Linked DNA regions of Homo sapiens: region 2 is linked to region 1. Evidence: fine-mapped expression QTL. Tissue or cell type: monocytes after interferon gamma. Region 1 holds a variant in brackets; the other region holds the start of a gene. All regions are shown on one strand. Distances are from middle to middle.

Region 1 (4,190 bases):
GTTCTTTGTATTGGGGTCTCTATTTCTGCTACTGAAGGAGGCGGTTCAGATGTTTCTGCTACTAGAGGGGGTGACACAGGCCAATTTTCATCCTCCTGCTCCTGTTTATTATTTTTAATTGGCGCTGTTGAGAGAACAGAAAGATTCTTTCAAATTTTTTGACTCTGAACATGACTCCTGCTGTCTAGCAGAATAAGAAATGAATAATGGCAGGATGAACTAAACTCCAAATATAAAAAAGAAAATAGCCAAATTCTTCCCCCATGTTACCCTGATTCAGAAACTTCCCGTTCCCAGTACCTCTTTAGGGCACTGACCTTATATTAGCTGTCAGCAGACTCGTCGCAGGGTTTCTCATTCTCGTTCTTCTTGTCAGTGTCAGTTTCTCTGCTCCAGCAGACCTTCACTCACGTCCCTGTCCTAGGTGCCAGTTGTCGCTGTTGGTTGTTATGGGAGTGAACGAAGGGGGATGAATGCAGAAACGAAGACAAAGACAAAAAGTATTTTTGGAAGAAGGGGTCAGGGGGCTCCTTCTAGTGAGCAAGGGCCCTGAGCTTCTACAGCCCTTCGTATTTATTAGGTAGAAAGAGCAGGGAGGGAGAGGTAGCAGTTGGTCAGTTGCTTGATTTATCACAGGTATACATAATTGCTTTCTTTGTACAACAGGCTTCAGATGTTCCTATAGATAATCACAAGGAACACTGTGCTTGGGGTGTGACTGCCCTCAGCAACCCTTCTGGCAGCAGACACAGTTGTTAGTTTTCCAACATCCTGCTTTCATGAGAACAGTTTTCTATTTGCTCATATAGCCTCCAGTGGTATACTGAGTTGGTCACGACCCTCATTCTTTCGGCCTGTAACAGGCTCATGCCTGTAATGCCAGCACTTTTGGAGGCCGAGGCAAGAGGATAGCTTGAGCTCAGGAGTTGGAGACCAGCCTGGGCAACACGGTGAAACCCCATCTCTGCAAAAATTAGCCTGGTGTGGTGGGGTGCGCCTGTAGTCTCAGCTGCTTGTGGGGCTGAGGCGGGAGAATAGCTTGAGCTCCAGGGGTCGAGGCTGCAGTGAGCCATAATGGTGCTGCTGCATTCCAGCCTGGGTGACAAAGTGAGACTATCTCAAAAAAAAAAACGGCTGTTAGATAAAAATGAAGACAAACAACATTTGCAAGGATATAAATCTTAACCCATTTATTGGGGGTATAGGCTCTGGTGTCAGATTTCCATCTGTCCTGTATTTTGTAACCACAAAATTGTCCTGGCTGGATTAATTGTAAGGAAGTCCCTTTAAACACATCTAGACTTCCAAAGTTTGTTTACATACTAATTAGTTGTCATGAAAAGCTGCATTCAACCCAGGGTCTGAGATGCCTTTTGTATATGAAAAGTGCTTCTCTTTCTGACACTGACTGAATTACATACATAACAGATTCATTTATTTAAAAACAATTTAAGAGGCTTTTTCTATAATGCTGAACCTGCTGTGTGGTATTTATGTTTAATTCTGGTCAAATTTTCAAAACTAATAAACACTGCAATTCAAAACCATTAATTATCAAGCATAGACCAAGTATCTGAGGTTATGAGCACATATTTAAGAGGTTAGACTCTGGCATTCCAGACATTGCAAATAATACTTTTCTCATTTCTAAATTTCCTAGAAACAAGTGGAGATTTGTAAAAGGAAATAATACTCTTTAAAACATTTATTTTTGACTCAGGATCTGGCTCTGTTGCCCTAGCTAGAGTGCAGTGGTGCCATCATCACAGCTCACACAATAGCCTGGAACTACTGGGCTCAAACCATCCTCCCACCTCAGCCTCCCAAGTAGCTGGGACTGCAGATGCAGGCCATCATGTCCCGCTAAGTTTTATTTTATTTTTGTAGAGACAGAGTCTATGTTGCTCAGGCTGGTCCTGAACTCCCGGCATCAAGTGATCCTCCCACCTCCCAATAAAACATGTACTGATGGCCAGGCACTTGGCTCACGCCTGTAATCCCAGCACTTTGGGAGGCCGAGGCGGGCAGATCATGAGGTCAAGAGATCAAGACCATTCTGGCCAACATGGTGAAACCCTGTCTCTACTAAAAATACAAAAATTAGCCAGGTGTGGTGGCACGCGCCGGTAGTCTCAGCTACTCCGGAGGCCGAGGCAGGATAATTGCTTGAACCCCAGAGGCGGAGGTTGCAGTGAGCCGAGATCGTGCCACTGCACTCCAGCCTGGCGACAGAGCAAGACTCTGTCTCAAAAAAAAAAAAAAAACCAAAAACCAAAAAATCAAAACCAAAACCATGTATTGATATCAAAGTTTTTTTATCCTGGCAGGGCACAGTGGCTCACGCCTGTAATCCCAGCACTTTGGGAGGCTGAGGCAGGTGGATCACGAGGTCAGGAGTTCAAGACCAGCCTGGCCAAGATGGTGAAGACCCGTCTCTACTAAAAATACAAAAATTAGCCAGGCGCAGTGGCAGGCGCCTGTAATCCCAGCTACTCGGGAGGCTGAGGCAGGAGAATCGTTTGAAACCAGGAGGGTAGAGGTTGCAGTGAGCCAAGATTGTGCCACTGTACTCCAGCCTGGGTGACAGAGTGATACTATGTCTCAAAAAAAAAAAAAAAAAAA[AAAG/A]AAAAAGAAAAAAGAAAGAAAGTTGCTTTATCTTTAAAACTATATATATTGTTTTCACCCCTACATAGTCCTTGCCTCCCAGACATCTCCTCACTAACGTCAGTAGACAATTTGGCATCTGATGGTTTGAAATAGTTTCTGTAATCAAATCCTGAATAAAATCCATTTTAAAGCCTATAGAGAGTTAAGAAACAAGTATAAAAATTTGTTGAAGTGTTTATTGAACGAACATAATACATTTGTCTGAGAAGAGATACGCACACTAAAGTCCCCTACAAGCAACTAATGGGAAAAGATCACACAGGTAACTCCAATTTTTAAAAATATGATCATGAAAGATAATTGTAGTTGGTGTTTATGGAGCATCTTTTGGAGGGGGGGGAACCCCCAACAACTCTACAAATTGAGATCCAGAACAGAGAAAGTCATCAGGTGAAATGCCAAGACCAAAAAACTTATTTTATTTGAATTCCATTTTCTGAGAAGAAAACTAGTATTGCAGCAGAGTCATTTAATGAAAACTTAACAGTTTCACTGAGGATTCAGATATCCGTTGACATGTACATGACAATCTTTAGATTAAATCATAAAAAGTTGACTGTCTCCAAGAAATTGTTATTTCACAAATTTATCTATTTTAAATATAACACTGAAGTTATTACATAAACACTGACGTCAAAATCATGCCAGAGCAGTGTTACTATTTTTACATGTATATGAGTATTCATGACCTTTAATGTCTGGACACATTCTAGGTCACAGAACAGAAGCAAATTTTCACTTTTGTGTGTTTTTGGTACAGTGACATGTCTGGTTCCTTTTGAGCTAGATATATCTGCTTAAATAATTAACACTATTGGATATTAGTCCCTCAAAGTAAATGTCTATTTTACCTGGTATTCTAGGAAGAGAGAGAGAAAGAAAATAACCAAAGAAATGTGACTGCAATCTAATTTCCAAGAGAGAAACTCTACTTCTGAATACTGGCCCCATACTGCATATTTTATGAATATTTTTCTCACAACTTTTCTTAAAACTTAAGTTCTCTCTTAGGAATGTCTTTAGTTAGGTCTTACAAAGAAACTGTTTAATACACAATGTTAACATCTACTAGGCAAAAGATGCTTGCTTCTCTTCCCACAAAAGCCAAACAGAAAACACAAAGTGTTACTAACGTTTTCTATTTATTCATTAATAAAAAGTGCATAGTACAAGCCCTTTATCCCAATCCAAGTACTCAGAAAAAGATTAACAACAGACCCTGGATGGCACAGACATAATTTGTTTGGCGTGATTTAAACATATAAAATCAGTAATTAACATTTAGCATATCACACGACCACTTTTGCTTTTAACAAACTAATCTTCACACATGGTAACAAATACCTATGATTTTTCATTTAGAAATATTATAAGAAGACTAAACTTACTATTGCAACAACAAAAATTTAACCCATTAAACTAGAAACTCTCTTCATTTTTCCTTCTTCAAATTACTGTTTTGTGTCTTAAACTGAGTTGGTCAAATTTGAGCACATAATTCATGTAGAGTGACAGACTTTCAT
Region 2 (4,220 bases), 86 kb before region 1:
TAAAAGTTGTACCCATCTAGCCATGCATGGTGGCTCATGCCTGCAATCCCAGTACTATGGGAGGCCAAGGTGGGAGGATCACTTGAGCTCAGCCTGGACAAAATAGCGAGACCCCAGCCTTGATTAAAAAAAAAAAAAACCCAACAACAGAAAAAAACAAACATGTTGTACCCATCTGGTCTTTGCTCTCAGCTCTATCGCTTAAAGACCCACAGATGCCTATTTTTGCCAAGTTCTTGCGTATTACACCAAATAAAATACATGACCCATTCTCTGAAAGAGACACTTACGCTGTATAAAGCACAGGTTTGAGAAACCTCCCTTTCCAAAACAAGGAAGTCTGATACATCTGCTTACCAGTGTAACACCCTTGATCATGTTCTGTACATGACTACAAATAGTCCGAACGGTAGCCAGTTCCTTTCTGTTACCCCACCATTTGTCAACCCGGAGCTGTAACAGAACAAAAAATGTATTCTTTCCAGAAATATGCAGGCTTAAAAGACAACAGACCACTTACCGAATTACTTTAAGATTCTAGAATTAACCCTTATCAAAGCACATGGTTTTCAACTGGAAAAATCCAACCACCTATAAAACCTCCCAACAGTTAAGCTTTGTAGAAGTTGCAACAAACTTCCCTTCTGGAAAATTAAATCATCAGGTTTAAATGACCTACTGCCGGTTCCTGTGATTTTTACAAAGCAATCACTAGGAAAATAAACCAAACTTCTAACACCATTAAGACGTGTCACTGATGACCACTATTACATTTGAGCTTTATATAATTGGCTGTGTTCAGAATCTGGTTTTTCAATTTCACTGAACAGGCTGGTATTCTGGACAGCAACATTTAAAGCTGAAGCACTGAACCTTAATTCGAAAATTGTTAAAGCAACCAAATGTGATGCTGTTATAAACCACCTTCCAACGAGCAACTGAATTATCAGAAGAAAAACCCTCACCCTCTTTTTTTTCTTTCCAAGAAGGCTGAGTTCTACATTGATGTGATTGAAGTCCCTCCGCAGGGTTCCTCTGGGGCCCTTCACGATAACTGTGCGTCCCTTCAGAGTAATGTCGACTAGAAGAGAGAACACACTCGTCAGGCCACACAACGCTTGGAACGTGCAGTAAAGATGTAAGTAAAAGACATCAAGTCTCATACCATTTTCTGGAATGTCGACAGTCTGATTGCTGAGAATAGTCTTCATTCTGAAACACAAACACTGGGGGTGAGGCCGACGCAAGGCCCGTTTTTCCACCAAACTACGCCGCACAGAGCTCCACTCCTACTGGAGACTGCCAGGCGGAAGTTCCAGACAAGATGTCGGAGGACGGGAGACCGACAGCGGGCCCCAGTGTGTCCCAGCCTGGAAGGAGCAGCCCCAAAGCGAGAATTACGAGGCCCAGCAGTCGAACTCCCACTCAGCCCAACCCTGGAAGTCCTATGCGGGCGGTGCCATCCCGGCAAGACTGAGGGGCGGGAATAGGCCAAAAAGCCCACAACAGGATTCGCATCTGGCGCCGCCAGGCTCATATGGCGCTTGCCGAGCTGGGGGACAAACAGGACAAGGTTCCGAGAGTGGGAGCCGCGCCGCAGCCTTTCCCAGAGCAGATGGTTTCAGATTCCCAGTACCCCCACGAGCACAGAAACATCCTTACCTCGCAGTAGACGCAGCAAAGAAAGAACGTCTGTCGTCATTACGTACTTGTATCGCGTAAGGGGCCTGCGTATTGCGTCATGAGTGCGCGACGCACGTAAGGCTAAAGCAGCCAATCGTGGAGCAGCTTGGCTGCTTGTCATAAATGGAGCGACGTAATTTCGACCTGTCCTTTCCCGGGAGTTAGCGATCCCTCAACCCCTGCACTGCGCTAGTCCTAAAGAGGAAATGTCTCTACGCTGCGGGGATGCAGCCCGCACCCTGGGGCCCCGGGTGAGCGGCGGGGCGAACGGGTTTGGGCGTGGGGTGGGGGGATCCTATCCCTTCAGAGCGCCCATGCCCAATAATAAAGGCCAGTGCATTTACTGAACATTTACTACTAGCCAACGGCAGTTTTAAACGTTTTTCGTGTAATCTCATGTAATTATCCCGCCAGCCCCATGATATAGAGTCTCTGGCATCAGTTTGTTTGCAAGTCTCTCTGGGCCAGCACCGAGGACTTATTTTCTGCTTAGAGTGGTTTGTACCCTATATTTATGGAGCACTGCAGTGAGCACCCCACATAGCTATTCTGTCTTGGACTCTTACTGTGTGTGAGACACCACTCTAGCCGCAGAGAACACAAACCTGTCCGCTAGGCTTCAGCGGCAGACATTGAGAAGTGCAGTAGCAATCGTGCAACACCCTAACAGGCACTCTTTGAGTTGTCGAAGGTTCTTTTGAGATACATGTGCAGACTCGTGGATTTTGTAGTGTTTTGGCTATCTCATACACGTTTGTGTTCAGATGTAAAAGCCGAATACCATGATTTCTTATGTTCTTGACTGCCACGTTCAAACACAGAAACAATGTAACCTAGAAAGTAAAAACGTTCATCCTGGCCAACATGGTGAAACCCCGCCTCTATTAAAAATACAAAAATTAGCTGAGCGTGGTGGCGTGCGCCTGTAGTCCCAGCTACTCGCCAGGCTGAGGCAGGAGAATCGCTTGAACCCGCGAGGCGGAGGTTGCAGTGAGCCGAGATCGCGCAACTGCACTCCAACCTGGGCGACAGAGCGAGACTCCATCTCAAAAAAAAAAAAAGAAAAAGAAAGTAAAAACGTTAGGCTTGGTTTTAACCTTCCAGTTGTCTGAAACTAATTGGGCATTATTAACCTACGTTTCAACAATTATTCAAAGCTCGAGAGATTTATTGCACACTTCACTTTAAACGCCCCTGATTCAAGTCAGGACCAGAACAGTTTTAAACTGTGGCACCTTCTTCAGTTATTGCAGTTCAATCTTGTTGAAAGACAAACATCTAGTTCCTGGTAGGTGGAGTACATGAAAGTGTGATATATGTTAGTTCCAGAGATTTTCGGGCCGGGTGCGGTGGCTTACGCCTGTAATCCCAGCACTTTGGGAGGCCGAGGCAGGTGGATCACCTGAGGTCAGGAGATCGAGACCATCCTGGCTAACATGGTGAAACCCTGTCTCTACTAAAAATACAAAAAAATTAGCCGGGCGTGGTGGCGGGCGCCTGTAGTCCCAGCTACTCAGGAGGCTGAGGCAGGAGAATGGCGTGAACCCGGGAGGCGGAGCTTGCGGTGAGCCAAGATTGCGCCACTGCACTCCAGCCTGGGCAACAGAGCAAGACTCCGTCTCAAAAAAAAAAAAAAAAAAACAGATTTCCAAATCTATTCTAAACTCAGTAGTAAACAGTCAACTCTTACTCTCTTTTAGGTTTGGTTCCTTCAGTCATCTTTTATATTCTAATGCCCTAGAATACTAGAGCTCCTAGTTTGACATAATTTCTGAATCACTTTTTTGGCTTTACCCTTCCGTTTAGGTGTTATGATGGGTTAAAACTAAATTATTACGGACTCCACTAAATAAACGTCATAATTAACTCTTTCTTTAGGTATTTGGGAGATATTTTTGCAGCCCAGTCAGACCGTTAAGCTCCTTGCCAGATAAAAAAAAGGAACTCCTACAGAATGGACCAGACCTTCAAGATTTTGTATCTGGTGATCTTGCAGACAGGAGCACCTGGGATGAATATAAAGGAAACCTAAAACGCCAGAAAGGAGAAAGGTAATTGAAAATTTGAGATAATTTTAACGTCCCGTTCCTTTATTGTGCATTATTTTCAGATATAACCAAGCCCTAGAATCTGTTTTTAATATCAGACTTGTTAAATTTAGCTAAAAATCATTAGAAAGATGTGATAACAGAACTAGATAGAACAAGTAAGCAGATGAAATTTTTGGAATCTTTCTCTTTTCTCTTGCCCTTACTATGTTACACTGCCATCTCCCCATTTTCTACCCAGCATCCAACTTCTTCAGAGTAAAGATTACTGCTTTGCTACTAGTCTGTTAGATCTGGGTTAGTAGCTGTTGATGATCTAACTTGTGCTTCTCCTAGTCAATTTACATGTGACCTATGGATACCTTGCCTTAATTTAAAAGAATGATGGAATTTTATGTAGAAGGTAGATTGAGTTGAAAGATAACTTAATCCTGCTCCTTCTATATCACAAGTGGATGGAAGTCATGGAGAACCAAGGATACACAGTCT

Direction of the effects. Positions count from the first base shown, and alleles are read on the strand shown. Sizes are in standard deviations (SD) of each study's normalised expression.
With allele A in place of AAAG in region 1, the expression in monocytes after interferon gamma of the gene that starts at base 1,694 in region 2 is higher (large effect, 1.1 SD a copy in Fairfax 2014).

The links. PIP is the estimated chance that this variant, and not a neighbour inherited with it, causes the effect.
Region 2: RPL9 starts here. The variant in region 1 is fine-mapped to the expression of RPL9 in monocytes after interferon gamma (Fairfax 2014, PIP 0.91).

What each region holds. Positions count from the first base shown.
Region 1 is chr4:39,543,507-39,547,696 of GRCh38, forward strand. SMIM14 (small integral membrane protein 14) reads right to left here. Exons shown (of 5, transcript NM_174921.3): 5 at 2,830-4,190. The region is part of intron 2 of UGDH-AS1 (UGDH antisense RNA 1); the gene reads left to right. Among named protein-coding and RNA genes, the nearest start is that of UGDH-AS1, 18 kb to the left of the region's middle. The variant AAAG/A (reference allele first, on the strand shown) is at 2,623.
Region 2 is chr4:39,457,229-39,461,448 of GRCh38, forward strand. It overlaps RPL9 (ribosomal protein L9), which reads right to left and starts at 1,694. Exons shown (of 8, transcript NM_000661.5): 1 at 1,663-1,694; 2 at 1,166-1,212; 3 at 966-1,081; 4 at 358-453. The coding sequence starts at 1,211. It overlaps LIAS (lipoic acid synthetase), which reads left to right and starts at 1,828. Exons shown (of 11, transcript NM_006859.4): 1 at 1,828-1,934; 2 at 3,562-3,734. The coding sequence starts at 1,890. RefSeq lists enhancers at 695-1,445, 1,641-1,935, 2,306-2,355 and a silencer at 1,876-1,925.